3 separate regions of the Homo sapiens genome follow, and regions 1 and 2 are each linked to region 3. The links come from fine-mapping of genetic effects on gene expression. A gene starts in region 3. Each other region holds a variant in brackets. All regions are shown on one strand. Distances are between the middles of the regions. Region 1 overlaps GLB1L2 (galactosidase beta 1 like 2). Region 2 overlaps B3GAT1 (beta-1,3-glucuronyltransferase 1). Region 3 holds the start of GLB1L2 (galactosidase beta 1 like 2).

The links.
Region 1: its variant is fine-mapped to the expression of GLB1L2 in testis (GTEx, PIP above 0.99). The same link has a PIP of 0.9 or more in thyroid and unexposed skin.
Region 2: its variant is fine-mapped to the expression of GLB1L2 in tibial nerve (GTEx, PIP 0.96).

What each region holds. Positions count from the first base shown.
Region 1 is chr11:134,367,518-134,377,093 of GRCh38, forward strand. It overlaps GLB1L2 (galactosidase beta 1 like 2), which reads left to right. Exons shown (of 19, transcript NM_001370461.1): 10 at 1,127-1,264; 11 at 2,288-2,368; 12 at 2,776-2,882; 13 at 3,491-3,631; 14 at 3,904-3,975; 15 at 4,235-4,313; 16 at 6,204-6,291; 17 at 6,628-6,739; 18 at 7,085-7,201; 19 at 7,455-8,807. The coding sequence ends at 7,541. LOC124902798 (a long non-coding RNA gene) reads left to right here and starts at 9,279. Exons shown (of 2, transcript XR_007062961.1): 1 at 9,279-9,576. RefSeq lists an enhancer at 8,944-9,576. The variant A/G (reference allele first, on the strand shown) is at 4,916.
Region 2 is chr11:134,379,387-134,389,200 of GRCh38, forward strand. B3GAT1 (beta-1,3-glucuronyltransferase 1) reads right to left here. Exons shown (of 6, transcript NM_054025.3): 2 at 8,162-8,554; 3 at 4,294-4,802; 4 at 3,324-3,620; 5 at 2,538-2,638; 6 at 1-1,361. The coding sequence starts at 8,273. The coding sequence ends at 2,552. Among named protein-coding and RNA genes, the nearest start is that of B3GAT1, 28 kb to the right of the region's middle. The variant C/T (reference allele first, on the strand shown) is at 5,516.
Region 3 is chr11:134,327,704-134,337,517 of GRCh38, forward strand. It overlaps GLB1L2 (galactosidase beta 1 like 2), which reads left to right and starts at 4,285. Exons shown (of 19, transcript NM_001370461.1): 1 at 4,285-4,444. The coding sequence starts at 4,359. RefSeq lists a silencer at 4,135-4,434.

The sequences.
Region 1 (9,576 bases), 40 kb after region 3:
GAGGGCTTTTAACATTGCTTGTTCGTGTTTTTGTAATTAGAAGGGTAATGCATGCCTATTGCAAACATCCAGAAAATACAGAAAAAGTATAGAGAAGAAATAAAATTCCCAGAGCACAGAGAAAACACTTAGCTGTTTACCACGCAGGCAGTTCTCTCTGTATCTCTGCCGACAGCTCTATACGCACACACAGATAGAGACAGATGCCATCACACTCCGCTGCATGTCACCTGCTTGTGCCAGTTAATGCACATACGGACAGCTTTCTGTATGACCAAATACAGATTTACATGACTGTTTTAAAGAATGTGAAGAGCCCCATTCTAAACCACACTTTGTGGACACAGTCTCCCGGGTTGTTTCTGGTGGTTCTGTTAAGCGCACGCCATCCCGGCGAGCATCCCGGTGAGCATCCCGGAGCCTGCGCTCTGCGCACCCGGCTTTCCCTGGGATGAGCGGCACAGGGGCTCCTCGGCACCGTGTAGATGTGCATGCTCGCCCCTCAGCCCCCGGAAAGACGGCAGCTTCAGCCGCTGCTGCTGAATGGGTGCACCCATTTCCCACAGATTCAGCAACACCGAGTATTAAAATAACTTTTAATATTTGTCTACTCAGTACATCATTGTTTAGTCTGCATTTCTTTGATTTATATTGATAAAATATATATTTATTAACCATTTGTTTTTCTCCTTTGCTATGATCTTGTTATGTCATGGTTCATTTCCTAACAAAGGTAGAATAGGAGGTGTCAGAGTTTTCTCTCTAAGGATGCATCCCATCTTTGTGCACTTGATACACCTGGTCAGGCAGACTCACATGGAGACTGTGCTGGCTGGAAGGCCCTGGCCGACCTGGGCTGCAGGTGGTCCACATGGAGCTCAGAGACTTGACCAGGATTGACAGACAACTGGAGGCTCGAGCTCTGGGGCCATGATTCTGGCCCACACTTCCTCCTCCACCCCTAATCTTCTGTGATTGGGGTTTTATGAGAGCTAGAAGGACAGAGTGACAAAGTTGGCCTTGAGGTTTTGAGGTGGGACTGGGAAAGAGGAGAGTAGTGAAGGGACCCCGGCTCATCTCAGACTTTAACTCACTCTGCACATCCCCTTTCTCCCTCCTCCGGCAGAGGTTTTGAAAACCGTGTCTGCCATTGTGGACGCCGGCTCCTCCATCAACCTCTACATGTTCCACGGAGGCACCAACTTTGGCTTCATGAATGGAGCCATGCACTTCCATGACTACAAGTCAGATGTCACCAGCTATGGCAAGTATTCATCAGCACTGCTCTCCCTGGTCTGCCCTGCATGGGCATGGCTGGGACTTGCTATGGAGAGGCCCTCAGGGTCAACTTCTGGCACCTTCGTGTCTTTGGCAATAGAGTACCTGGAGAAGGTACTTGCCTGGACAGTCATGTTACACTCCCAGAGGAGGGAAGCCTCAAGGGAGGTGGTGTGCCTGTGAGCTGGTCACTCTACAGAGAGGCCTCTTTGGCAAAGGTTGGCCTGAGGAAGTGGAAGGAGACCGCCCTAGGGGGACAGGGAGGGACGGTGGCCTCCCCTCCCTGCCCAGGCCCTTGAGGAGGTGTGATCCTGCCTCCTTTAGGTTGAGAGTCCCAGAAAGTAGAAATTACACCTGCAGCTAGAAATTTAGGGCCATGCTGTGATCATGGACAGTTTGTGTTTTTTTGAATTTGTGAGAGAGTTATCACTCTGACACCCAGGCTGGAGTGTAGTAGTGTGATCATAGCTCACTGCAGCCTCAAATACCTGGGCTCAAGTGATCCTCCTGCTTCGGCCTCCTGAGTAGCTGGGACTACAGGTGTGCACCCCCACCTCTGGCTAATTTTTAAAATTTTTTGTAGAGGTGGGGGTCTCGCTATGTTGCCCAGGCTGGTCTGGAACTCCTGGCCTCGAGCGATCCTCCTGCCTTGGCCTCCCAAAGTGCTGGGATTACAGGTGCGAGCTGCTGCACAAGCGATCCTCTTGCCTTGGCCTCCCAAAGTGCTGGGATTACAGGTGTGAGCCACTGCACAAGCGATCCTCCTGCCTTGGCCTCCCAAAGTGCTGGGATTGCAGGTGTGAGCCGCTGCACCTGGCCTTATGGACGCTTGTTGTAGTTGCCTGGTCTTTCATGTTTACAGTATTTTGACTGAATGGCTCAAAAGTGTCTTGCCTCCCCAATGGCTGAGATGAAGACCTGTGGCCCTTCCAAGCTTCTCCCTGTTCTTCGTGCTACATGTGCTGTGCTGGGGACAGGAATGACCATGACAGGGCCCGGTGTCTTGCAGACTATGATGCTGTGCTGACAGAAGCCGGCGATTACACGGCCAAGTACATGAAGCTTCGAGACTTCTTCGGCTCCATCTCAGGTACCCAGCAGACAGCAGACTCAAGTTCCAACTCAGGCCCTCGCTTCTGCTCTCAGACCCCTAAAGAGTTACTTCCTTACTGTCCCACCTCGACCCCAGTTGATCTGCGTGCAAGAATATCCTAGACAAGGACAGGGAGGTGTGTGAGGCTGTTTCCATCTTGCCGGCTTCACCTGTTACAGGTGTTAACGCTCCTTATCTCCTGTGGAGGACGGGAGAACGCCCTGGCTTTCCCCCAGGCCTGGCCTTCCTCCCTGGCCTCAGCAGGTGCTGAGAGCTAGCCTGTTGTTCCTCTTGGTGCTGGGACGCAGGAGCACATCGGGTCTGTGGATGGGAGCCGGGTGGGGAGGACGAGCAGGCAGTGACATTTGGGTCCGTTGGGGGTGACCCTGTTTTCTGTGTTGCAGGCATCCCTCTCCCTCCCCCACCTGACCTTCTTCCCAAGATGCCGTATGAGCCCTTAACGCCAGTCTTGTACCTGTCTCTGTGGGACGCCCTCAAGTACCTGGGGGAGGTGAGTGCTGTGGGCAGTCATCGGGAGGTGAGTGAGTGCCGGGGGCAGTCGTTGGCAGGGAGGTGAGTGCTGGGGGCAGTCGTCGGCGGGAGGTGAGAGTCGTCGGGGCAGCAGGGCCTGGAGCCCCTCCAGACAGGGAGTGTGGGGGGAGGCAGGCCAGTGCCTGGTGGCTCTGGGGTCTGCTCTCCGGCCTTGGAGCTCAGAGGGAAGAGGACAGACTCATGCTGGAGTGTGAAGTGGGAGAAACAGAGGTCCCTGAGGAACAGCGGCTGGCCCCGTGGGCCTTTCCTTCCTCCAGCCTCAGAGAGGAGAGTGAGGGGCAGAGGAACAGGCCGTCCCCTCCCCAAGAAGGGGGTGCCTCCTCCGGCGGACTGAGGCTGTGATGTGTGTCCCCTGCCTGCGGACTGCACTCTGCTGGTGCACACCCCTTTGCCCCACTCCTCTTCCCCGTCACCCTGGAGAGTTGTATGTTTAGTGCAATGAGAAGTCAAAGTAGAAAACACCCACCAAACCTCCGCTTCCACCCCATGTGCCAGCCCCCAGGCAGAGTCTGTCTGTGACCCCACTCCTCCTGAGCCTGCCCACCCCTCCATCTCTTCTGTACGCAGCCAATCAAGTCTGAAAAGCCCATCAACATGGAGAACCTGCCAGTCAATGGGGGAAATGGACAGTCCTTCGGGTACATTCTCTATGAGACCAGCATCACCTCGTCTGGCATCCTCAGTGGCCACGTGCATGATCGGGGGCAGGTAGGAGCTTCTCTTCTAAATTCCTGTGACCTTCTGGTGAGCAGCTCTGCAATAGGCGTCTCATGCCCTCCCCTCAGAATCAGCTCTTACCAGTGTGTGACAATGGCCCTTCTGAGTCAGCTCTGTGAGCCTTCAGGGGGCATTCATGTCTGCTCTGCCCACTGGCCCCTCGTCTGCCTACAGGCACGCGTGCTGCCCTTCTTGGCCTGGAGGAGGTCCCGCTTACCCTCCTCCTGTTGGTCATGGATGTTCCTGCCTGTTCCCTTTGGCAGGTGTTTGTGAACACAGTATCCATAGGATTCTTGGACTACAAGACAACGAAGATTGCTGTCCCCCTGATCCAGGTTCGTTGTTTTTGGGAGCTGGGTGATGGCTAGCCCCCGCTGCTTCGAGGAAGTCTGGGGGCAGTCACTGAGGAAAACCTGGGAGACCCGTGGCTCCTTACCCACAAGCTGTAGGTGGAGAGGGCGAGTGTGGCTTTCTGCCCAGCTGGGATGTACACTCCCATCCCCAGAGCGTAGGGAAGAACTGGGGTCCACAAGCAAATTCTGAGGGGCAGCTGTGGCCTTCTGACAGTCATCGTTAGCCCCGTGTTCCCGGCAGGGTTACACCGTGCTGAGGATCTTGGTGGAGAATCGTGGGCGAGTCAACTATGGGGAGAATATTGATGACCAGCGCAAAGGTGGGTCCCAGAATGTGTCAAAAGAAGAGTGGCCATGCTGGACACACAGGTGGCTATTGCTTCTCTATGCTAGCAGGCCACCAGGCCATGGAGGCCTCTTGCAGGGAGGTGGAGGCTGGGTTGTCCCATACATGAGGCCAGTTCTGAGTGGGCCAGAGAAACTCCGCTGGGCTGTGGCCCCTGTCCTGTTAGCACTGCACGCGTGCATCGTCTGCGTGCTCGTGATAAACACTGTGAACACTGAGCTGGCCTCTTGTCTCCCCTGGGCTGCAGTCGGTTTCTGCAAGGATGTCTGCTTGGGGGGGCGGCAGTGAGGAGCAATGAATGTGATTTCCAGGAATCCAAGGAAAGGCACAAGACCCCTGCCTTCTTGGGCCTCCACACTGAAGTTCTCTTCTTGATCCATCTTGGGAAAGCTTATCTCAGATGTTGGGGGAGGAGGATGCGGGACATACAGCAAACAAAACACCTGTTGGTAGCGTACCCCTCTGGGAATAGGCCGCCAATTTGCTTTATGTTTCCTGGCCTACTAAATCTTTTATGCTTTAATTTAGCCCTTCCTTTTTTTTTTTGAGACGGAGTCTCGCTCTTTCACCCAGGCC[A/G]GACTGCAGTGGTGCAATCTCGGCTCACTGCATGCTCCACCTCCCGGGTTCATGCCATTCTCCTGCCTCAGCCTCCCGAGTAGCTGGGACTACAGGCGCCCGCCACCGTGCCCAAATTTAGCCCTTCCTTTTTAAAAAAAATCTAGCTAAATGTGGGTGGTTTCAGGTAAGTTATAAAAAAAGAACTCAGAACAAAATGAATGCGACTGTGGTGAGCAGCACCGGTGACCTCCCAGCTCTCTCACGGTGTCTGCGTTTGTGACGGAGGAAACTTGAAGAGCTCTTATTGGTCCACATTTCCTCCGAGAGCCGTCTGGTGGCCTGCCAGGAAAGCCACGTGGCCCAGACACTGGGGCCTGGATCCTGGGGATCAGGGCCCTTCTAGATGGGCCTCAGAGCGGCATCTAGCACCACCCAGGCCCACACTCCTTTACCCTAGACAGCTCCCTCTCTGGGCCTGTCCTCACTTCTGTTGTTCTCCTGGGAGTTGGAAGGAGCACCAGCCTGACCATTGTTCCTAACTTTGCTTCCCTGAGCCCTTGTTGAGGGTCCCCTGGGCCCACACTGTGGAGTCCTGTCCTCTGGATCACAGTTCAATGTTTATAAGTCACAGACCTCCCTTGAGAAATGCGCGTGCCCACATAGACCCGCACCTGCCATTTCGGAGTCTGTAGGCCCTGCAAAGCCTCTCCACAGTCCTCGGCCTCCAAATTCCCAAGCTAGCCACTCAGCAGCTCTGTAATCTGAGACTGGCAGGGCTGGCCCGGCCCCGGGACACTGATGAGTGGCTCCTCAAGAGGACACATCTCTTCCCTGTTGGATGCCCGAGGGAGGGTGCCATCTGCTCACAGTCCAAACACTCCTAATGCACAGCTTTAATCCTAGGTGGCAGAGATGATTCTGGCTGAGTTATTAGGTCTGTGTAGCTTGGGCCCCACTGAAACTGGCCCTGCAGCTAGGCCAGAACCCTCTCGGTCATCTGGAACTTCCTTCAGAGAGAGGCCAGAGGTTGTTCTCGCCCTGTAACACCTCAGCTCTATATCCTTCCCATGGCAAATCTTAGGGTCTTCCTCCTTCCCGTCCCCCACAGAATTGCTAGGGAGCTTTGCTTGCAAGCGAACGGCTTCCCAGGGAGCGTACACTTCAGTACCCCTCACCCCAGCTTCTCAGGGAGCGTACACTTCAGCACCCCTCACCCCAGCTTCCCAGGGCTTCCCCTCGTGGCCCCGGCCCAGCTGACTCGGCCCCTGCCTTTGGGCTACCCACGTGTCCTGCCTCCCTCCCACAGGCTTAATTGGAAATCTCTATCTGAATGATTCACCCCTGAAAAACTTCAGAATCTATAGCCTGGATATGAAGAAGAGCTTCTTTCAGAGGTGGGTCCCTGCCCAGCACCAGCCCTTGCACTCACAGGTATAGTGCTGTGTGGTGGGGCCCAGGGGTCCCTGGTGCACCGTGGCCTGGCCCGCACCCAGGTGTGAACGCCTCCAGGGGCCAGATCGGCTGGCCGAGGTGAGGGGTGGCACCCGCACTAGAAGCCGCATTTGCAGACTAGGAATTCCCAGCATCCTACCGTGCTGCCATTCTGTGTCCTGGTTAAGAGGCGGGGGGCCTTGGATGGGGAAACGGTGTCAGGGCCTTTTATTTTGCTTTATTGTGCTGGTGGATTGAGAAGGGCCTCCTCCCTCTCCTTCTCTGTGTTCTGTCCTTAGGTTCGGCCTGGACAAATGGAGTTCCCTCCCAGAAACACCCACATTACCTGCTTTCTTCTTGGGTAGCTTGTCCATCAGCTCCACCCCTTGTGACACCTTTCTGAAGCTGGAGGTTGGTAACGCCCTTTTCCCTGCCAGTTTCTCCCACCTGCCTCCCGCCTTGGAGGGCTCTGAGCCAAAGCCACGAGCTTGGCGAGAGTCGTTGGTGGCTTCTGTGCCCAGAGGGTCTGAGAGGGCCGCTGGGGCCTCCCTGGGCCAGAGGAGTGGGTTCCCAGCAGAAGAAACACCTCATGCACTAGGGGGACAGGAAATAGAGCATCCCACCTGCCCACCCTCATGGCTGTCCAGACACAGCTCGCTTTGGTCTCCTGGACCTGAGAGAAGCACGCATGCATGTCTCCCTCCACTTTTGCTGTGGCTCTCGTGGTAGATGAACACCCTTCCCCTCTGTTTCAAGGGCTGGGAGAAGGGGGTTGTATTCATCAATGGCCAGAACCTTGGACGTTACTGGAACATTGGACCCCAGAAGACGCTTTACCTCCCAGGTCCCTGGTTGAGCAGCGGAATCAACCAGGTGGGAGCTTCCAGCCCCTTCCTGTTCCCCATGACGCCCTGCCCACCTGCCGTCCCAGGGAGCCTTCGGTCAGGGTGGAGGGGCGTGTCAGCGGGTTCTTCCTCCCTCCTCCTCGCTGCAGACGAGTTGTTGGTCCCTGTCCCTTCCAGCCTGGTTCCCAAACCCTTTCCTTCTGACCCTGCCACCTCTCAGCACCTCCCCTGGCTCCAGGACAGACGTCAGCTGCCCTCCCAGCCGGGCCCTCTCTCCACAGGTCATCGTTTTTGAGGAGACGATGGCGGGCCCTGCATTACAGTTCACGGAAACCCCCCACCTGGGCAGGAACCAGTACATTAAGTGAGCGGTGGCACCCCCTCCTGCTGGTGCCAGTGGGAGACTGCCGCCTCCTCTTGACCTGAAGCCTGGTGGCTGCTGCCCCACCCCTCACTGCAAAAGCATCTCCTTAAGTAGCAACCTCAGGGACTGGGGGCTACAGTCTGCCCCTGTCTCAGCTCAAAACCCTAAGCCTGCAGGGAAAGGTGGGATGGCTCTGGGCCTGGCTTTGTTGATGATGGCTTTCCTACAGCCCTGCTCTTGTGCCGAGGCTGTCGGGCTGTCTCTAGGGTGGGAGCAGCTAATCAGATCGCCCAGCCTTTGGCCCTCAGAAAAAGTGCTGAAACGTGCCCTTGCACTGGACGTCACAGCCCTGCGAGCATCTGCTGGACTCAGGCGTGCTCTTTGCTGGTTCCTGGGAGGCTTGGCCACATCCCTCATGGCCCCATTTTATCCCCGAAATCCTGGGTGTGTCACCAGTGTAGAGGGTGGGGAAGGGGTGTCTCACCTGAGCTGACTTTGTTCTTCCTTCACAACCTTCTGAGCCTTCTTTGGGATTCTGGAAGGAACTCGGCGTGAGAAACATGTGACTTCCCCTTTCCCTTCCCACTCGCTGCTTCCCACAGGGTGACAGGCTGGGCTGGAGAAACAGAAATCCTCACCCTGCGTCTTCCCAAGTTAGCAGGTGTCTCTGGTGTTCAGTGAGGAGGACATGTGAGTCCTGGCAGAAGCCATGGCCCATGTCTGCACATCCAGGGAGGAGGACAGAAGGCCCAGCTCACATGTGAGTCCTGGCAGAAGCCATGGCCCATGTCTGCACATCCAGGGAGGAGGACAGAAGGCCCAGCTCACATGTGAGTCCTGGCAGAAGCCATGGCCCATGTCTGCACATCCAGGGAGGAGGACAGAAGGCCCAGCTCACATGTGAGTCCTGGCAGAAGCCATGGCCCATGTCTGCACATCCAGGGAGGAGGACAGAAGGCCCAGCTCACATGTGAGTCCTGGCAGAAGCCATGGCCCATGTCTGCACATCCAGGGAGGAGGACAGAAGGCCCAGCTCACATGTGAGTCCTGGCAGAAGCCATGGCCCATGTCTGCACATCCAGGGAGGAGGACAGAAGGCCCAGCTCAGTGGCCCCCGCCCCCCACCCCCCACGCCCGAACAGCAGGGGCAGAGCAGCCCTCCTTCGAAGTGTGTCCAAGTCCGCATTTGAGCCTTGTTCTGGGGCCCAGCCCAACACCTGGCTTGGGCTCACTGTCCTGAGTTGCAGTAAAGCTATAACCTTGAATCACACCCCCTCTGGTGATAGTCTCTGGTCATGTGTGCCACTCTTGCCAGAAGGGAAGGCTGTCTGAGAGCTTGGTTTTCTTGGTCAGGTTCCCATTGGGCCCCACTTGCCGCCTGGGGGTCCAGATGGGGACCGTCCCTGGGGTGGGTGGGCCATGATCCTGGCCTCATATTCCCCTCCTGACCCCGACTTCCCTTCAAATGTCTCTGGATTGGAAGTGCCCTGGAGAGGACAGTTCAAATGCAAATTCATTCTCATGCTGGTGGGCGGGGGTAAGAATCTGCCAGGCAGTCAAGGGCGCTCCATATGAGTTAACTGCGGGGTTGAGTTTTGCTTCACAAACTACATCTGGCATCTACTGCCAAAACCAAATTATCTCCAGTAAGAGTCAGAAAGTCAAGTAGCACACACATCCCCGGCACAGCGAGAGCTCTGGGAGCCCCGTGAAGGTGGGCTGGGGGATGGTGAGCCGTGGAGCTCACTGAGGCCAGCAGGCTTGCTGCCCGTGTGTGGCTGCCCAGGGGGAGTGCAGGGGACATTCGTGGTGTGCAGCCCAGCAGCTGAGCCGGGTCAAGGGCTTATTAAATGGAGCTTATTAAAGGAAAGCTTGTGGACAGTGGCTTGGGAACAACATGGGGCAGAGTCCCTGGTTTTGCCCAAACTCACCAGTTCTTCTGGAACTGCCTCGGAACGACAAGCATGGGGCTAAGATGTGGATGAGACTCGGGCTACTTGGGTGTGGCCTGAGCCACCTGCAGGGTCTTCTGCCCCGCT
Region 2 (9,814 bases), 52 kb after region 3:
TTGCAGGAGAATGAGCCGGATCACCACTAGAGAGCCCGGCTGGGCCAGGGGGTCAGAGCCCTTTCCAGTGGGCCCCAGAGGCCTGGGGAGGGCAGGAGTTTGAGGCACACTGTTCTTTCTCCAGGATGGAAAGTGGACAGCTGGACATGAGGTGGGCTAGCTCTGCATGCTCCTGACTTAGGGAGAAATAACATTTTCTTTCCCTTTTTTGTGTTTAGAATAATTTCCAAAGCAGTGTGCTCAGGCCTCCCTCCTGCTCAGTGTCCCAGCAGCCCCTGCCCCCTCTTTCCCAGCCCCTCTGCTACTCCAGAGTCCCTCCTCCTCAGACCAGGGGCAGGAGGGAGTTAGGGAATGGCCTTGGCCTCCCTCCTCTTTCCAGGCTGCAGGAGGTCCCACCTTGCCCACCACCCACCGCCTTGCCCACTGCCCACCATGGGCTCACTCCACCCTGAGGTCTGTGGCTCTGAAGAGCTGCAGGAAAAGGCGCTTTCCCTCCCCAGTCCAGTCCAGGCGAGGGGCCTAGCAGCCGAGGTGGGCGGTGGGGAGGCAGTGTGTGGACAGTGGGGCCGTGGGGTTCTTAGTCCAGGTCAGGCAGTGACCTGTGCTGGCTCTAGAGCCTACCCCTTTGCCACTGCTGGAGGAGAAGGGGTAAAGGAAGAGGGGCCGGAGGGGGGGACTCTGCTCCCGCCACAGCCTGAGGTACAGGGGGTGCCTATTAGGCCCAGGCTCCCCCCATGCAGGGCTGGGTGCCTGTTGGGATCCAAGACAGCCTTATGCTCTGTAAACGTGAACCAGAGGAGAGCCACAGAGGTATGTCTGATTTGGGGGCAGCTCTCGGGAAGAGCAGGGGCCCAGGAGAGGAGCAGAGCGCTCGTGATGCCCGTGGGCTGCTCTCTGGTCTTCAGAATTCCCTGGCTGGGTGTCCTGTGTGGTCGTGCTGAGCCCAGGGACAGGGAGCCAGGGAGGGCCATGCTCCACTTGACTGCGGGGTCTTCTTATCTCCCTCCCGCCCTGCATCACTGCAGGGCCAGTGTGGGCGCCCACTGCACCTGCTCCTGCAGCCCCGTCAGTGCGGGGAGCTCTGGGGAGGTGCGCTGGAGCACCAGCTTGGCTGGTGCTGGACACCCCACCCTGGCCATCAGGTCTCTCGGGCCCTGGTCACGCTGGATGGAGAGAACAACAGGTCTGGGATTTCTGTGCTTAAATTCTCTGTCCTTTGTTCTGGCATCAGGCTGGGCTCTCTCAGAAGCCCCCAGAATAGAAAGGAGGGTGATGGTGATTCCTTAGGAGTCGGCCTTGGAGGGACCATCAGCCGTGGGGAGAGGATGGAAGGCCAAGAACAGGGTCTGAGGAGGAGGCTCCTGTGAGGGGAGAGGAGGAATGAGTGAGGTGTCGGCTGAGGGTGGGGCCGGGGAGGGAATGGCCAGGCAGGGCCACCAGGACCTCTGCAAAGCCCAGGCCCCCAGGTCCTGTGGGGGCCTTTCTGAGGGGCAGGTGGGGAAGGTGCTTCCAGTGAGGGCAGTGAGGGCAGGAGGCAGAAGTGAGGCTCGGTACAGATGCATTCTAAGTGGCGCTGGCCAAGGTGACTGAGTGACACCCTGTGGTCCTCTGCGGGCAAACACAATACAGAAGCTATTGCTTAGCTCCAGGGCAAGAGGACAAATGTCTGTCTCAGGCCTCAACCTCTGTTTGGCATAACCTAGAGTAGGGAGTCAGGAGTACCAGCTGCTTTTAAGAGACAGGATAAGATCACAGAAAAGCCCCTGAAAATGCCTGGCTTTGCCAACCACCCAGCACAATTCACTCGTGCCAGTGTGTCACCTTGGAACATTCATTTAGCTTCTCTCAACATCATTTCTTTGCTTCTGAAGTGTAGGTGGATCCTGTGGCCTACTTCCAGAGAGGGCTTTAAAGACTTGAATAAAAATAGCCACACTGATGAGATTTAAGTGCCATGAACTGTTCTAGGTGCTCTCAGCAACCTACTTCACAGATGAAGAAACTGAGGCCCAGAAAAGTCAAGTCAGGTCAAACAGTGAAGAGCAGGGGTCCTGGGAGCTGAGGTGGGCTCTGGGTCCGTGCTGTCACTCTGCGCTACCTCTCACTATGACAGCCGTGGGCTCATTGCTGTGGAGCAGCGAGTCCGTGAGTCCTCACCATGGCCACGTGGTGAAGGAATCCACAGGGGAAGAGGCAGACTTGGGGGGACAGACGCTGGCCAGCGAGAGTCTGAATGGCAGTGCCTTGTGGGGTGCAGGCGTCACTGCCAGCAGAAAAATCAGCAAGATGTTTGGAAGGTGACACCCTCTGAAGAGTCTGGTGGCAGAAGGACCCAGCTGCGTGGGTGAAAGTTAATGCCTGGATACTTTCAGGTGGCCCAGTGGGAAGGGGACTGTGGTGACGACGCCCTCCACTCCTGCCCACATCTGCCCTGTCCTCCACAGTGAAAGCCCAAGAGGAAAAGAATGAGACAGTTGATTCGGCCCAACCTGGTGCCGCCCTGCCCAGTGTGTGGCCCACCCTCGTCATGCCCATACCTGCATCCTGAGGCTCAGATCTCCACCGAGGGGTCAGTGAAGCCCTTCTTGCCCTCATTCACCAGCACTGGCTTCTCTGTCCGTGTGTGCCACACCAGGATCTGTGTGCCCAGAGATGCAAAACATGGTGGGACAGGCCCCTGACCTCACTCTGCTGCCTCCCTGCTCCCTCCCACACTGTGTAAACATTTCTCCTGCCCCTCCTTTTCCTTCGAGAGTTTTTCAATTGTTCCATCAAGATTTTCTCAATTGTTTTTTATTTATTTTCTGTGGCTCTCGACTACCCCCTCATTTTTGCTGTTTTTACATGTGATGCCTTCGGAATACCTGCTGGAAATGGGAAGTCTAGAACTACAGAAAAGAGAAGCCCCAAGACTTCCCAAGTGTGTGTGTGTGCATACGTATGCATGTTCATGTGCATATGTGTATATGTGCATGTCTGTGCATGTTCACCTGCATATATGTGTGCATGTGTGTGCATCTGCATGTGTGTGTGCGCACATGTGTGCACGCGTAGGCATGTGTGTGTGCATGAGTGCTCAGCAGGGAGGTGCTGGAGCACGGCTGTTCTGTGGGAGGTTATAACTCCCCAGTGGCCATTGCTCTCCCTTTCCCTGCCTGTCCGCAGTGTCGCTGCCTTACAGGTGATACACTGCCTTCCTGGGAGGGGGTTCCAGAAAGCCCAGGCTATTTTGAGGCCTCTGTTTCCTTCTCCCGATCTGTAGGGAGGGTCTGGATGTACTTGAGACATTGCATCACAGCTGTCAGTTCTGCGGAGGGTCTCACCTTGGTGCAGTTGGCTGCCTTGGGCTCCAGGTCGTTGAGGGTGACAAGTTCTCGAAGGAGGCTGCTTTCCTGGTAGCCTCCCTTCACACCTCGCAGCTTGAAGTAGGCCTGGCTTCGCTGCAGAATGAGCCGCAGGTTGACGGCAAATCCAGCCATGTCTATTGCAAATGGCCGGTGGGGGTCAAACACCGTCTTCCAGCCGACCACCTTCCCTGCCCCGTTCACCCGTGGGGCCTCGTACCGCAGGCCACCCACGAAGGCGACGGGCCACACGGACACCCTCCTGGTGCTGCGCATCTACAAGGGGGGGGTCCAGAGTCAGGGCGCCGGCACTGCAGATGAGGACGGCCGCGCGTGCCCAAGGGAGGCGACATCCTTCAGCCACCTCTATCTATGCCCATGGCCAGCCGCGGCCACCTAGGGGGTGTCCAGTACAGCCCTGCCCCCAGGACCCATCCCATGGGTTGGGCACCTGAGAAGAACCTGCCCTGGGCTGCCGGGGACACCTGACCTCTCAGACGGCCTGGTCTTCCCCTTCTCAGCGTGGCCCTGCTGCTGTTTTCTCCCTTGTCTAAAACCTTTCAGTCTCCCCGCTCTAGAGTGTGAAGTGACTCCCCTTGTCCCCGAGACTAACACAGCCCATATACTCAGGCGAGCTCCAACTGTTCCACCTAAGAGGTTTCTGGTAGTCACGCAGAATGACCTACTCACAAACCCATTCAGGAGATACCTCTAGGGCCAGGAATATGGTTTAGGGGCTCCAGAGCCACCTGTCTTCCCCCTAACTTGTGGGGGATGCTTTAGCCCGCAGTTCCATCCCTTTCCCTGGCTCTCTGCTGCCTGCCCCGCTCCCAGCCCGGCTTCCCGGGTTCCCCCTGCGCGCGCCTCCGCACCCACACCCCCTTCTCGGGAAGCCCCTCCACTCCCCGCAGCCGGAGGTCCCGCTGCTCACTGTCGGGCCCTCCCTCACCTCTTCGAAGAGCTCCAGGCTGTAGGTGTTGTCGTCGTCGGCGAAGTAGACCACGCCAGGCTGGCTGGAGTTGCGCGGGAAGGTCTCGCGCAGCCAGCGCAGGGCCAGGTTGCGCTGCATGGTGCCCCGCGGGATGCGTGGGTCGCGGGCGTCTCCGCGCAGCTTGTAGTTGCGGGGCGTCTCCACGTGCAGGTGCGTGTAGTTGAGGCCGGTGTCGCGCAGCAGGCGCGCGGTCAGCGGCGTCCGGCGCGGCGCATCCTCCACCACCAGCCAGTGGAGGTTGGGCACGTGCAGCAGCGTGTTGGCCATGCGCGTCAGCTCGGCCTTCTGCACCGGGCGGCTGTAGGTGGGCGTCACCACGTGGATGGTGGGCAGCGTGTCGGACCATGGCGGGGGCCGCGTGTACACGTACTCGGTGCGCACCACCTCCACGATGTCGCGGTCAGACGTGCAGTACTCCCTGGGGTCGGCGCCGGGCGGCGTTTCGCGTCGGGGGTCACTGCCCTCATCTGCGGAGTCGGGAGACCGGCGATGTGGGAGGAGAGCGCCGGCTACGGCCCTGGATTCAGAGCGGGACGCCACCCACCCTGCCAGGGCACCCTCCTCCTCCCCCGCTGCAGGGGCTGCTCAGACCCCCGCCTTGCCTGACCTGTTAGCTCTAAGGTTGAAATCTGCAGCCCTGGAATCCTCTCTGGGAGGGTCCTAGCTCTGATGACACAGACATAACCTCTTCCTTCCCACCTTTGCAGCCCTCTAGCTATTTGAGCGCAGTTGCCCATATTCCAAGATTGCATCCTCAGTTCCTGAATGTGCTGACTTTCCTATGAAAAGGCGTCCCGACCCTCCCCTCCCTAGCCCTACTCATCTGGAGGGAGCTGGCCACACTGCCCTGTGCAGGGCTGGGCTAGCAGAGCACGTGGCACTGCCCCGCTGTGGTGTGGACGCCACAAAGCCCCAGGGCCGCAGCACTGCGGCAGCAACCAGGGCCCACTGTGGGCCCGCAGGAGCCTGAGGCAGCTCCCGGAGTTCTCAAGCCCTCCAGTCAAGCGGGGCCTCTTCCCTCCTGGCCTTACGTAAGGCATTCTCTGAATCTCGGTGCAGAACTTCCTATTTCACCGCATTTTATTCTCGTGGGTTTTGCCCATAGTTGCCAAGGTATATGTAGATCTAGCAGTCCTAGCAAGAGGAGAAATCAGGGCCATTGGGATTCTTGTTTTCCATG[C/T]GTCCCTTCTCTCCAAATTCTGTCCTTCCATCGGAAGGGCTCATGCACCAATGACGGTGTGGCCCTCCTGTCCTAGCTTACCGTCGGGTGGTAAAGGTAAGAAATCCCGGTGCCTGGGCTGAGACCCTGCCCACTTCTGCCGTTACGAACCCTGTGCCCTTGAGCAAGCTGCTTAGCTTCTGGCGCCTCAATTTCAGCAACTGTAAAATGGAGCTAATAATAGCATCGAACTTATCGAGTTATTATGTGGATTAATGAGTCCACAAGGGCTGAGAGCACCGCCAGGCACAGTTTCCTCTCTTGCGGAAGGGCAGTGGCCAACTCTGCTTCCTTCTGGCTTCAGGCAATCGGTGGGGACAGAACCAGCAAGTCACACCAAAGGGGAGGACCCCGGGCATCAGCTCTTCTGCTGCCTCCCTCCGGCCACTGTCATCGGCAGCATGTGGGGTGTGTGGCACGCTAGCGTGGAGCTCATCTGAACGGACCCAGGAGGCCTGCTCGTGGCTCTTCAGGAGTTCTCATGGGCAAATGGCACCAGGCACACAGCAATTGCTGAGGGTCGGGGGAGGAAACCAGCACACACGCAGTCGCTCAGAGGGGGCTGCTTAGAGGAGTCTGGGGTCAAACTGTGAGAAGAGCAACGTGGAAGAAAGCGGGATGGGTGTCTAGGGTTCTGACCTAGACAGAGGACTTAATTCATCCTATGGGCAGTCAAGTTTTGGAAACTGAGGCCTTGAGAGGAAGTTTGGAGCCACTTTGTCCACCTCTCTGCCACCCAAATCATCCCAAGGCCGCAGAGGACCTGTGCCCTTGGACAGTCCCCATACATTAGGGCACGGCTACTGCGTGTGCTCCTGGGCTTCGCCCTTCCCATTGGCTTCAGGGCGTCTGCAATTTTGGGTCCTAAAGGCCTCCTGGTGACCCTAACTTCACTCAGCTGCAGCTTTCATTCGCTTGCTCTTGGCATGCTCTGGGGAGACAGAATGCCAAGTCCCCAGCCTCAGGCAGCACCATCAGTGCTTAGCAAACAGCCTGACGTCTCCAGCGCTGGAGCTCTGCCAAGAACGCAATCGACACGATATCATGTCGCTTTATATATAGTAGTTTTAACCCCTCTGGAGTGATGTATTTGCAAGATAACAATGATTCTGAACTGACAAGCACAGAGAAGAGGCCCTAGGGTCGGGAGGAGAGGATGATGTCAGGAAGACAGGCGCCAAGTGCCAGCCACGGGCAGTGGGCTGCCGCAATGTTGAGCTTGGCCCTTCCTCATGGAAGCTTCAGGAACAGCTATGGGTTTGCAGGACTTGGTATTTGACTGTGAGGAGCAGCACGACTTCAGGCTGTGATTTTTGGACACTGCCTGCATCTTGGGGTTACAGGCACTCACCACCTCTCTCTGCATGGGCTTGGTGCTGCCTTCTTGTTTATCACACTGCCAGGTGGTATCATGCACGCTGCAAACGAACAGCTGCCTGACCCCACGTGAGCCTGTGCATGTAAGTGGGGGAGGGGGCAGAAAAGCACGAGACAAAGTGCTGAAGAGCTGGGGCAGCCAGCTGTGGGGTGCGTGGCAGGTTTGGGAGTGAGAGGGAAAGGCGACCCAGGACCCAGAGCCAGGGGAAAGGAGTTCTACCCCTAGTTCTTCCACTAGTTCTTCACGGGACTTTTCCTCTCTCCAGCCCTATTTCCACCAGGTAGCACTAGATCAGGGTTTCCTACACAGGAAAAGAAGAGAGGCAAACAATATACTCTCTGTGAAAGGGTTTAAAACACACTGCAGGCCAGAAATCCTATTCCTCCCCCACCATCCACTTCAGAATGGTCGCTTTCCTTGCATGTCATGAAATGGCATGTGAAGTTGTACATGCGTGTCTTTCTGTGTATGTGTGTGTATTAATGATGTTTGTTTTTTAAGTTTTTCTGTATTTTAAGATGCGTCGACATCTTGGGGGACTTGCAGATATGGGGAGGGACTGCCCCTCCCGGGACTAGCTAATTCCTAGTGACAGTACACACCTTGCCTGCAAACACACTTTTCATATGCAAACTACCTGATCTAGAGCTCATACCCACTACCACCTTTATGGAGCTCTCCCACCCAAGCCAATCTTCCGCTGCCCTAAACCACCCCAGGGCGATACCAGACAATTAGAAACCACACCCATATCCTAAACCCACTGACTTTCTTCAGACTATGCAATTCTGGGCCAGCTCAGCTGCCGACAGTGCTTCGCCCTTCCCTTCCTATGAAAACCACTTTCCTTCCTACCAAAACCACACTAAAGACTCCCACTCCCTCCACTTCCCACCTCCCCCTCCCTTCACTTCCCACCTCCGACCTCAGCACTTCCCCAGGGGGCAGGGCGTGCCCCCTCCTCTTGGGTGCTGAGAGTAACAAGCTCTTCTTTCAAGGCAACTGTCTTGGTGTCTGCCAACCTACCATCCCAGGCATCTTAAAACTGTGTGGGTAGCTTCCATTAGCTTCCCATTCCCAAAGGGGTGCAAGACTCATGAAGGGGCCTAGATGATCCCGTGGTTCCTCCTAGCTGCTAAGTGAGTGCAAGCAAGAACCCTGCGTGTCAGCTGTGGTCACTGTCACTACCAAGGCCCAGCTGGGCAGGCAGGGCATGCGTGCGTGCTCACCCTTATGTACCGCGAGCAGGGGTGCGAGGGTGCTCTGGTGCCAGACAGTGATGAGCAGAGTCCAGGGCAGCACGATGAGGACGATCGCTAGGATGTCCCGTCTCTTCGGCATCTCCAAGGCTGGCTGCACCCACGGCTCCTCATTACCTGAGTGGCGGTAAGTTCAGGAGAGGGGCGGCCACGGGCGGCGGCAGCACAGGGGAGAAAAGAACAGGCATGGGCCGGGCCGGCCAGGCATGGAGAGGACAGAGCAGCTGAATGTTGGCTAGCAGGTCTTACCAGCACTCACAACCCACCCATTGCGGAAGCAGGTTTGGAGAGTCCGGCCCAACTGGAGTCTGAGAAGGGGTCGCTGTCCAGGGGCAGGGGTCAGGAACCCTGGGGGGTGGACACCTGCAAGAGAGAGCAGAAGCGGATAGCCAGAGACCCAGGTATAGGAATGGATGCCAGCAAGGCTGGGCCCTGCTCTGGGACACACAGCATCGGGGGTTCCACAATGGAGCCTCAACTGTCCATCACCTGAGGACCTCTTTTGTCTGCCTGTTAGAGTGGAATGGGCTCTGTCCTTCCCACAGGCACAGGGCCATGGCTCTGCTCCATTTATGAAAGTCAGTAGGGTGCAGGGGTCAGAAGCACAGACTGCAGAGACACCAGGTTTAAATCCCAACTGTGCCACCCACAGGCTGTAAGACCTTTGCCAAGTCATTTCCGTTCTCCATGCCACAGTTTTCCCATCTATAAAATGGGGCACTGTGGATCCCTACCTCATAAGGTCATTCTCAGAATTAAACAGGGTAACTCCCGTGCAGCCCTAAAATGCCAGCTACTTATCAAAGCCTGGATAAAGGGGTGAGAGGTTTTATTTTCTCTCTCTCTTTTTTCTTTTTTTTAACCATATATGGACCACGAATTATTATATTAAAAATAATTTCAACATTTTAGATTTGGGGGCACATGTGCAGGTTTGTTATGGGTCATATTGCATGTGATGCTGAGATCTGGAGTATGATGAATCCCGCTGCCCAGGTATGAGCATAGTACCCAACAGGGCGTTTTTCAGCCGTTCTTCCTTTGAGAGTCCTCAGTGTGTATTCTTCTCATGTTTACAGTCATGAGTACCCAGTGTTTAGCTCTCACTCATAAGTGAGAATGCATCGTGTTTGGTTTTCTGTTCCTGTGTCAATTTGCTCAGGATAATGGCCTCCAGCTGCATCCAGGCTGCTGCAAAGGCCATGATTTTGTCCTTTTTTATGGCTGTGTAGTATTCCTTGCTGTATATGCACCATGTTTTCTTTACCCAGTTCACCACTGATGGGCACCTAGATTGATTCCATGCCTTTGCTATTGGGAATAGTGCTGCGATGAACATACAGGTGCAGGTGTTTTTTTTGTGAAACACTTTATTTTCCTTTGGATACATACCCAGTAATGGGACTGCTGGCTAGAATGGCAGCTCTGTTTTAAGTTCTTGAGAGATCTCCAAATTGCTTTCCATAGTGGCTGAACTAATTTACATTCCCACCAACAGAGTATACGTGTTGCCTTTTCTCTGCAGCCTCATCAGCATCTAATATTTTTTGGCTTTTTAGTAATAGCCATTCTGACTGGTGTGAGATAGTATCTCACTGTGGTTTCAATTTGCATTTTGGTGAC
Region 3 (9,814 bases):
CTTAAAGGCCCTGCATGATCAGGCCCCTGTATCTCTCTGTCCTCATCTCCTGCCTTCTTGCCATCACCTCCCACGCTGTCCTCCTAGCCTTTCCTTGGACACCAGGGACACCAGGTCATGCTCCTTCCTGAGGGCCTTGGTACGAGCTGCTCTGTCTGCTTGGACAGTGCTTCCTCCAGGTTCTATCTTGGTTCGCTTGCATGGAGAACTCCCACTGTGTTCCGATCTTTGTTCAGCTAATGTCTTTCCGGGGAGACCGCCTCTCTGCAGACCCCTCCCCACCACATTCCCAGTCCTCCTTCCCTTATTACTTTTTTTTTTTTTTTTTTTTGAGATGGAGTCTCACTCTGTTGCCCGGGCTGGAGTGCAGTGGAATGATCTTGGCTCACTGCAACCTCCACTTTCAGGGTTCAAGCAATTTCTGGCTAATTTTTGTATTTTTAGTAGAGACGGGGTTTCACCATGTTGGCCAGACTGGTCTTGAACACCTGATCTCAAATGATCTGCCTGTCTCAGCCTCTCAAAGTGCTGGGATTACAGGCGTGAGTCACTGGGCCTGGCTCCCTTATTACTTCTTAAATTTTTGCAATGGAGTTTACTACCTTTGAATATACTCTACAGTTTACTTATTCATTCTGTTAAGTTTTATTGTCTTTCTTCCCTAGCTAGAACAGAAATTTCAAAGAGAAGAGATCTTTGTTCTGTCCACTGATACATCCCAAGCATGTGAAACAGTGTTCAGTATGTTGTTTATGGTCATTAAAATTTGTCATTTACTTTTTAATAAATACAATGCTGCAGAATTAGATCTTTGGCTATTAGGCCTTCAAAGGCTGAGCCTACAAAATGATAGTTAGGCTTGGTAAGGCCAAAGATCAAGTTCTGTGCATCCTTATCGGATGTGCACAGGCCCCTTCCAGTCCCACTCACATATCTTTGGGGCTGAAAAGCTTTGTCTACTTCCTTTATCTTAAATCTGCCTTCTCTTTTCTTTTTCCTAGGCCAAATCTCCATTCCAGGACTTTCTATTTTGTTTTGGCTAGGGTTGAAATGGCCCTCATTTATTCCCAGGAATTCTCCTGTGCTCTGAATTTCTTTGTTCAAGACCCCTGGCAACTTGACATCATAACTGGACTTTGCTTCTCCTGAGGGGAGGGTGGATGGGGGTTGCTGGACAGAGGTGTCTGTCCATAAGGAGGAGGTGGGGAGGAGAGGGTTATATCTTGGTCCAGGGGCCCAAGTGACTGTACTATCGTAGAAGCCACATTTTTCATCTTATTCTCATGACTAAAAGAAATTTTGCCAATGTTTTCCTAAAATTCAGATATCCTGTGTTTAAAGCATTAGCAGAGTGCCCTCAAAAATGAGTTACGTGAATGAATAACTGATCTGTAAACCTGTTACCTATTAAAAATAAAAAGTGAAACAGCAAATGAGACTAGTTTGACATGATCGCTTTTCCCACGTGACTTCACTGTACTGATTTTGAGCGAGTGTGGTTTTTATTCTCCTGTGTGTGCATTTTGTATGTGTTTCGGTTTCCCGCTGATTATCTGTGATACAGGAATTTTCAAGGAAGGAACTGTGCCCTCTGGGTCTGTTGGAGCTCTGACTTAGAGCAATGGAAATGGCACACCAACAAGATTTAACTTTTTTAAAAAGCATTTCTTGTATTTTCTAAACCCTGGACACTAGAAAGAAGGCCTGGGAAGAGGATGATTCCTGTGTACCAGGGATTCATTACCAAGCCAAGCACCTTGGCAGACCACTTTTTTACCCCACTCTTATGCCAGCTCATTGTAACTGTAGCTTTTGTTCCCAGGGATTTGAGTATTTTCACTGTCTGCTTTGGGTTAAGATCACTAAACATTTTGGAAAGGAGACACTGAAGGAGTATCTTGCTAATTTTTTTTTTTTTTTTTTTTTGAGACGGAGTCTCGCTCTGTCGCCCAAGCTGGAGTGCAGTGGCACGATCTCGGCTCACTGCAAGCTCTGCCTCCTGGGTTCACGCCATTCTCCTGCCTCAGCCTCTTGAGTAGCTGGGACTACAGGCGCCCGCCACTACGCCCGGCTAATTTTTGTATTTTTAGTAGAGATGGGGTTTCACCGTGTTAGCCAGGATGGTCTCGATCTCCTGACCTCGTGATCTGCCCCCCTCGGCCTCCCAAAGTGCTGGGATTCAGGCTTGAGCCACCGCACCCGGCCTAATGTTTTAAAAAACAAAAGTCTCAGGCTGGAAATGGTGACTCACGCCTGTAATCCCAGCCCTTTGGGAGGCCGAGGCAGGTGGATCACCTGAGGTCAAGAGTTTGAGATCTGCCTGGGCAACATGGTGAAACCCCGTCTCTACTAAAAATACAAAAATTAGCCGGGGAAGGTGGTGGGTGCCTGCAGTCCCACCTATTCGGGAGACTGAGGCAGGAGAATAGCTTGCATCCCGGGAGGCATTGCAGTGAGCTGAGATTGCACCACTGCACTCCAGCCTGGGTAACAGAGTGAGACTCTGTCTCAAAAAAAAAAAAAAAAGTCTCAGCCTATGAGCAAGACGCATCTCGGGTTAGTGCTAACTTTGTAGCATTCTGTGGTATCATTAAGCCCAGATAAAGTAAAATTGTTCCTAGACTGTGAGCAGGGTGTGTCCCTAGTTCTGAACATCCCACAAGGTTAAGGGGAAATTTTTTTGAAAACACTCAGTTATGTATATTTTTCTCGCACAAATAAAAACGAAGGATACAAGGGTGGGCCAAGGAGTTCACGGTTTTCACAACCCATGTTAAGTTTTTGCTAACGTTTGAAGAAAAATGGAGATGCTTGTATTGCTTAAACCATTTGAGAATTCCCTTATATTTGATAGATTCTGCCACTGTTCAACGTGACCAGAAGTGAGAGGATGAATGTGGGGTGCATGTCTTTCGGATGGTCCCCTGCAGGCAAAGGGGCTAGCCTTTGACAATTTCTCCACACGCTTCGGGGCTAGCTGGTATATTCCAATTAAACCAACATGTTTCCATCACAGACTTCATAGCCATCAAGCAATCATAGCCTTACCCAATGGAGAAAAGGAGCGGGCTTGGAGCGCGTCCACGGGAGTGGGCCTCCCTCTGCGCGCCTCTGGGAATGTTTGCGGTGCTTAAGTCAGACCCGGATTGCTCCAAGCCCAGCTTATCCTCCCCAGTTCTGCCAGGGTTTTTTTCCTCTTGTTTGTTCGTTTGTTTTTGCCTCTCTTTGATTTAACTTTTGCTCCTTGACTAAATATGTGCTTAACGCTAGACAAAGGACACTTCATACCCAAGTCTGTGTCTTTGTTCCAAGATCTGCAATTTCATTTGGTTCCTGTCGGCTTTACAAGTTCAAAACTATGCCCCCGTTTAGGAAATGAATTCAAAGCATGCGGCAAGGGAGACATTCGACAAACCCGGATGCTCTGGAAAACGTTGCCCTTCCTCGAGTTTCTTTCAGTAAAATCTGAATTTTGTTCCCGGGAGGAGTTGGGTTTGTGATTGCTACAGTGTAAGTTGCACCGAAATACTACATCATGTTCTTTGGGACATACATTCTGTTTCAGAATAAGAATGATATTCTTCCTTTCCTAAAATGTGAGAGTTTTATATGGACCTTTTTAAAATAAAAAATTGGAAGCCCTTGGAGTCAAGGCCAGAGTAAGACTCGCAGAAACCAAAGACAGAAAATATTTGGAACCCCCCCTCCTCAGACATGAACCACACTGAAATGTGTCCAGATACAATTCTTCAAAATCCTGGCTTTTCACAGGATGATTTGTTATTGAAAAAGTTGTTTGCTTCAGAATCTGAATTGTTTTAAAAGATTCTGTTGGTTGCCCCTGCTTTGCGGACGCCTTTTGTACGTTCTTCCTGATGTAGCGCTGCGAGGGGCGACTTTACCTCGGCGTTTGACAGGTACGCAGCATTCCCGCACCCGCCTGCGCCTCGCGAGCAGAAAGACGGCGGACTCTGCACCGCTCCACGACACTGGGGACCCGCCCCGGCCAGACCCGTCCCCTACCGAGACCTTGTCCCCGCCCCGCCCCCGGCCGGGGCCCCGCCCCGCCAGCCCCGCCCCCGCCAGCCCCCTCTCCTACCGAGACCTCGTCCCCGCCCACCAGCCCCGCCCCGCCCCCCCCCCGACAGAGGCCCCGCCCCGGCCCCGGCCAGCCCCGCCCCCGCTTGCGCGAGGCCTAGGGCTGCAGGCGCGGAGCCGCGAGCCCCAGCCAATGAGCGCCGGCGGGCCGGTTGCCCAGGCGACCAGTGCGCGGCTCCGCCCCCCGCGGCGAGGCTCCCGCGCGCGGCTGAGTGCGGACTGGAGTGGGAACCCGGGTCCCCGCGCTTAGAGAACACGCGATGACCACGTGGAGCCTCCGGCGGAGGCCGGCCCGCACGCTGGGACTCCTGCTGCTGGTCGTCTTGGGCTTCCTGGTGCTCCGCAGGTGAGAGAGAGCTTCGCGCAGCACCTGCCGGACCCCACATTCCCCAGCCCTCCGCACCTCGGGTTCTCTCCTCCCGCGACCCGCGAATCCCGAGTTCCCGGGGGGAGCAGCCCCAGCTGCTTCTTTCTGGGAGCTCCCCAATACCCCCGAGTTCCCCTGCGGCTGCAGGCACTCTACTCCTGCCGCGCGATCCAGGCCTCTGGGCGACACCCGGCGTGCCCTCGGGAGCCGGCGTCTGTGCCCCGAGCCGCCCACCCCGCCGCGCCTGTGACGCCGGGCTCTGCCCCCCGTGGACGCCCGCAGCCCTCCAGCCGTCAGAGCCCTCTCAGACGCACCCCATCGCGGCCCCGTCCCCACTGCTCCGCGGAGAGCTCCCTCTGCCCTTCCCCCAGGCCCCCCTTTTCCTCCCAAGCCTCTGGGAGGCGCCTTATTCCGCAGAGGCCGGCGCTTCAGCCTGGCAGGTATGGTCTAGCCAGCTGGCCTGGCAGGGTCGTAAGAACAGTGTCCGTGGGCCTCCAAGATCCCGGGCCATGATTTATTTGCACAGTAGGACTGATAGGTCGTCTCTCTCCACTTTCCCACCATTCACCTGTTACCAGCTCACCCTTTCCTCTCCCCCTTTTCCAAATGTTGTTTATGGCAAAGGAGTGGCTTCAGTGATACTGTGATTTACCCACAGCCTGTGAAAAAGTTTTCTGGGTGCCCTAGCCCAGCATTTTTCTAAACTGTGCTTATTTTAAGGATTCTACAGCCCTGACCCTATCTTTCAGGTCAGCACTTTCCATATTCAAAACCTCCAGTGGGAAGCCGACCGGCAGTATCGAATGAACTGAACGGTTGGAAGTGGTGGCAGGCCCTACGCCGCTCGGCTTTGTCATTTGCTTCTTTTTTACTTAGAGAAACTAAGTTCTTAGTTTCTCTGCACTTCCCCTGGGAGACAGGGAAGTTTTTGATGGAGATAAATATCTGGAAGTCCTTTGTGGCCAGAAGAACACACTGACAAACTCTATGTTTACACCTTGTCAAGACTGGATTCTTGTTTCTGAGATAGTGGGGACGTCATGATATTGTTTGGGAGAAGGACGGATTTTCTTCTCATTCTGGGGCCCAGAAAACTTCAGGCATTTAACTTCTCCGGTTGTTCCCAAGATGTTTTCTGTCCTGCCTAAGATCTCTAAGCCATTCCTCTCTGAAGATTGGCCCTGGCTCCTGTGGGATGCTCAGCTTTCCTCCCTGTGCAAGGCTTACGCAAACCCCAGAAGAATTACTCAGAGCAGCGGCAGCAGATCCTCCTGCATACAGCAGGGTAGCAAGGCGTGCAAGCTGCCAAGAGAAAGGCTAGCGGCTGCAGGCCTGTTGTTGGTCAGGGATACAGGAGTCCGTGCAGGGGACCCAGGCAGGTCACTATTTGGGGCAGCACTGTGGGCTTGAGATGGGCTGAGTGGTACACCCAAAAAGTCCCCAGGAAAAGGTATGCGAAGGAGGCTGAGGGTTTGTTATTGTTTGGTGGGACAGAGGTGAGGTGGCAGGGAGCTGACCTAGCTGGGAAGACGCCTGAGCTTCTTTGAGGTGAGGTAACTGTGTCCCCACCTAGGTGGGGTGACCGCACTAGGAGTCAGTCTTGGGCCATTGGAGCAGGTGGAATGGCAACAGAGAATAAAGAGCTGCAACCAAATTCTGTGAAAACAGTTTGGCCTGCCTGGGAAGGATGTTTTTCTTGCCTCTCCATCCTTCTAGCAGGTAGAACAGAAGCTCAAGGAGCTCTGAACCAAGTTCAGGGCCGTGTCTTCAGATCCTGTGGAATACGTGTCTTTTTGGCATCTTTTTGATTTTTTCACCCTCATGGGTACATTCTGCCAGTTCCTCCTGTCTGACTTGGGCTGGACACCAGTGAGTATGAGTTGCTGTAATATCTCTGGAGGCAGGAGGAGAACATCCTCTTTGTCTTTCCCTCTTCCTGTCTTGCCCCAGCTCTGACTGGGTCATTAACTGAGTGGGAGGTGGGGCCTCTCCCAGCTGTTACTGGGCAGTGTTGAGGTGGCCAGTGGAATATAGGTCACGTGGAAACTGGCCACCAAGTTCACTCTTTGTGGAGCCGAGCTGTCAGGAGCAGCCCCTTTCCTGTAGCAGAAGGCAGGTATTTGGACAGTGGCTGGCATGGGCTGGGGGATGTTTGGCTATAGCTTTTCTTTTTTTTCATCAACTTTTCCTTGGGCTGGTTCACGGTCAGTCATAGCTGGTGGGTTACATCATATCAAAAGACTAGGATGACCAGGTTGACTTTTGGGGAGGATTTCAGTCTTAGAATTTTTATTTTTATTTTTTTTAAGCGTAAACAGTGGTCTTTCTTAAAAATTACCTTTATTGGAGTTTAATTAATATGTACAATTTGATAAGCTTTGACACATATCTAAATCCAGCTGTGAATCTATCACCACAGTTAAGATTGTGAAAACAGCCACCAGCCCCCAAAGTTTCCATGTACCTCTCTGTCATCCCTCCCTCCTACTCCTCCCTGCTCCCCAGCCCCAAGCAACCACTGATCTGTTGCTTTCCGACACGATATATTGGTTTGCATTTTCTAGTGTTTTATAGAATTGTAATCTTAAAGCATGTTTTCCTTTTTGGTCTGGCTTCTTTCACTCAGAGTATTATTTTGAGGTCTGCGATGCACGTATCAGTGCGAACCGTGCCTTTGAGCCAGTTGCCTTTCATTCTCTTCCTATTCGCACTCCATGAACACAAGAATGCCTGCTTGATATTATCTAAAGGCATGGTTCTCATTCATGATTTTTTCCTTAATATAAATGAATCACCGAGCAAGAATACAGGCAACGCTGCATCTCTCATACCTGAAATTTTAGCTGGGAAAGTTGGGAGAGGGGAAAGCCTTCATGTGGGCAGCCAGCATCATGCTCCTAAGAGGTAAGTTCATTTCTTCTCTGAGGTCCGTCTCACACACTGCCCTGCCCTGCTGTTTTCTTTATTCCAGACCCCAAATTCTTCCTATAGAAAGGAAAAGGAGGAGATGTATCAAACTCTTTCTCCTGAACAAGGTGGCTAACTTAGCAATGCAGGTCACTTTTTTTTTTTTATGTGAATCATGGCCAGTCCTGTCTTCCAAGGGTATGTGGCCAAATCATGCCTCTCCTCTGGAGCTTCTGGGAGGTAATTGATTTTATGGGCCTTGCCTATTCTAGGACTCTTCTCTGCTTGAGGCCTGAGTCATATTTCATGGAATGTTCAAACTCTTTGAACAGTGTTCCTTTCATCTTGTAGTAGTAAAGTTTTCAGCATCGGGGAAGTGTCTCTTTCAGCAGGTGATCACCTGTTGGATACAGGTGTTGAGGGATGTCTGAATCACCCTGTGCTAGGAAGATCGAGTTGGCTCTGGGATTCTTACAGGACCATGCTAGCCACCAGCAGAAGGAGACCAGAGTTGTCTTGGAGCAGCCATAGTATTGGTATAGGTGTGATTCAAGGGAGGGACTGGGCTACCAAGAAGATTGGAGACAAAGAGCCTGGGCTGCAGAAATAGCAGAAAGTTGACCAAAGGGTTCTTCCCACCTTAAGGTAAGGAAGTGGCAAGTGAAATAAAAACATGTAGTCCTTGATGAAGTGGTGCAGAGTTCCACGAGGTCATGTCAGACGCTCTTCTGGGAAGAATTCAGGAGATGCTGTAGCTTGCGGAGAAAGGTTTGAGAACATTTGGACCTGAAAAGGACTCTGGGGTCTAGGCACGTCCTCCCTCCCTCCCTCTCCACCATCACCAGCAGGGGCAGGGTTTTTTGGTGTCAATGTTGGGATATTTGCTGCTTCCTCTCCACTCAGTTTTAGCTTTTGCTTAAATCTATTGCTCTGGATATTAAAGACCGTATTGAAAAAGAGTTCTCATGTGTGGATGTCTCCTGGGATAGAAAGGCAGCAGGTGTTTTTAGAGGCTCCTGCTAACGAGGTAGATATTTCTTGACTCGTGTCTGCCTGTTAGAGACTCCTTGTTGATACTCACAGCTTCTGTTCTTTGACACTCAGCGAAACAGTCAGTGGGCTTGTTCCTTTCAAGCACAGATTGTATTTTTTTCCCTTAAGAAGTTATTTTGTGAGTAGGCAATTAATGAACATGGTAAGTATTCAGAGTGTGAAGGGGAATAAAGTGAAAAGAAACTCCCATTCCTGGCCCCTAGGCTAGGCACCCTTCCCTATCCCCTATTCATATCAGCTGTTACTACTGGTAATGGCTTCTTTCAGAAATATTCTATGCATATACAAGAAGATAGCTACACATATTATCCCACTTGTCCATTAGACACATAATTTATTTAAACAGCCTTCTACTGATGGACATCGATTGTTTGCAATCTTTTAGCTACTGTAAACAAAGCTGCTGCAGATATCTGTTGGATGTATTTCTATAAGTAGAATTGCTGACCGTAGGATAGATTCATTTTAAATCTTGATAGACATTTCCAAATAGTACATTTTATTTCTGTTGGATCAATGTAAAGGAGATTCCGAGCCCAACTCAATAGGGCCAAGTCGATTCTTGAGTCTTGTAAGAGCCAGTGCATCTCTTGTATATCTTCATAGATAAGTCCTATGTGGTGGATTAAAAAAAAATTTAACATAATAATGTTTTTCCGTATTTGTGATATCATTTCATTTAGAGTCTACAAGCATCTTGAAGATCAGGGGCTTGTTATCAAGAGTAGAGGCCTTGTGTTATCTAACAGAGCTTTCTCTCTGGGTGAGACACAGTCCTTTTCCTGTTTATGATGCTGTCAATGGTCCCAAAGTACTGCAAAAGTACAGAGTAACAGAATGTTAGAACACTTTTTGTTGTTGTTATTGTTGTTATATGGTTGATTAGAGTGAGGGGTTTTTGTTACTTTACTATTGGATCTCAAGGTTTTGGTCTAGTAAACTCTTCTTCATGTACTCACTTCCTACAGTCTTTAGGAAATAACTGCTCTCTGAACCACCAATATTGCTTCCGGGTCAGAGCCTGGATGTGAGGCCAGGGTTCCTGCCTTACCTGGGAGCCTTTTCAAAGGAAAAAGCAGAGGAGCTAGGATGGCAAGAGTGCTGTGGACCTCTTGCTGGGGACCTCACATCTCTGCAAGATGCATATACTTGCCTTGGGAATGGCAGGCCAAAGCCCTTGGGCGTATTTAATGCCTCTCCCAGCAAACAGGAGTCCAACACCTTGGGCCCAGACCAAGGAGCACATATAGAAAGCTGGGCCAGAAACAGGGACCGACTTCCATTTCCCTGAGGCTGAAGTTCCTGGAGCCCGGGGATTGGTCCAAGAGGCAATATTTTGGAGTAGAGGCATTAAGGGCACCATCTGGGCCAAAGAGTGAATAGTTCCTT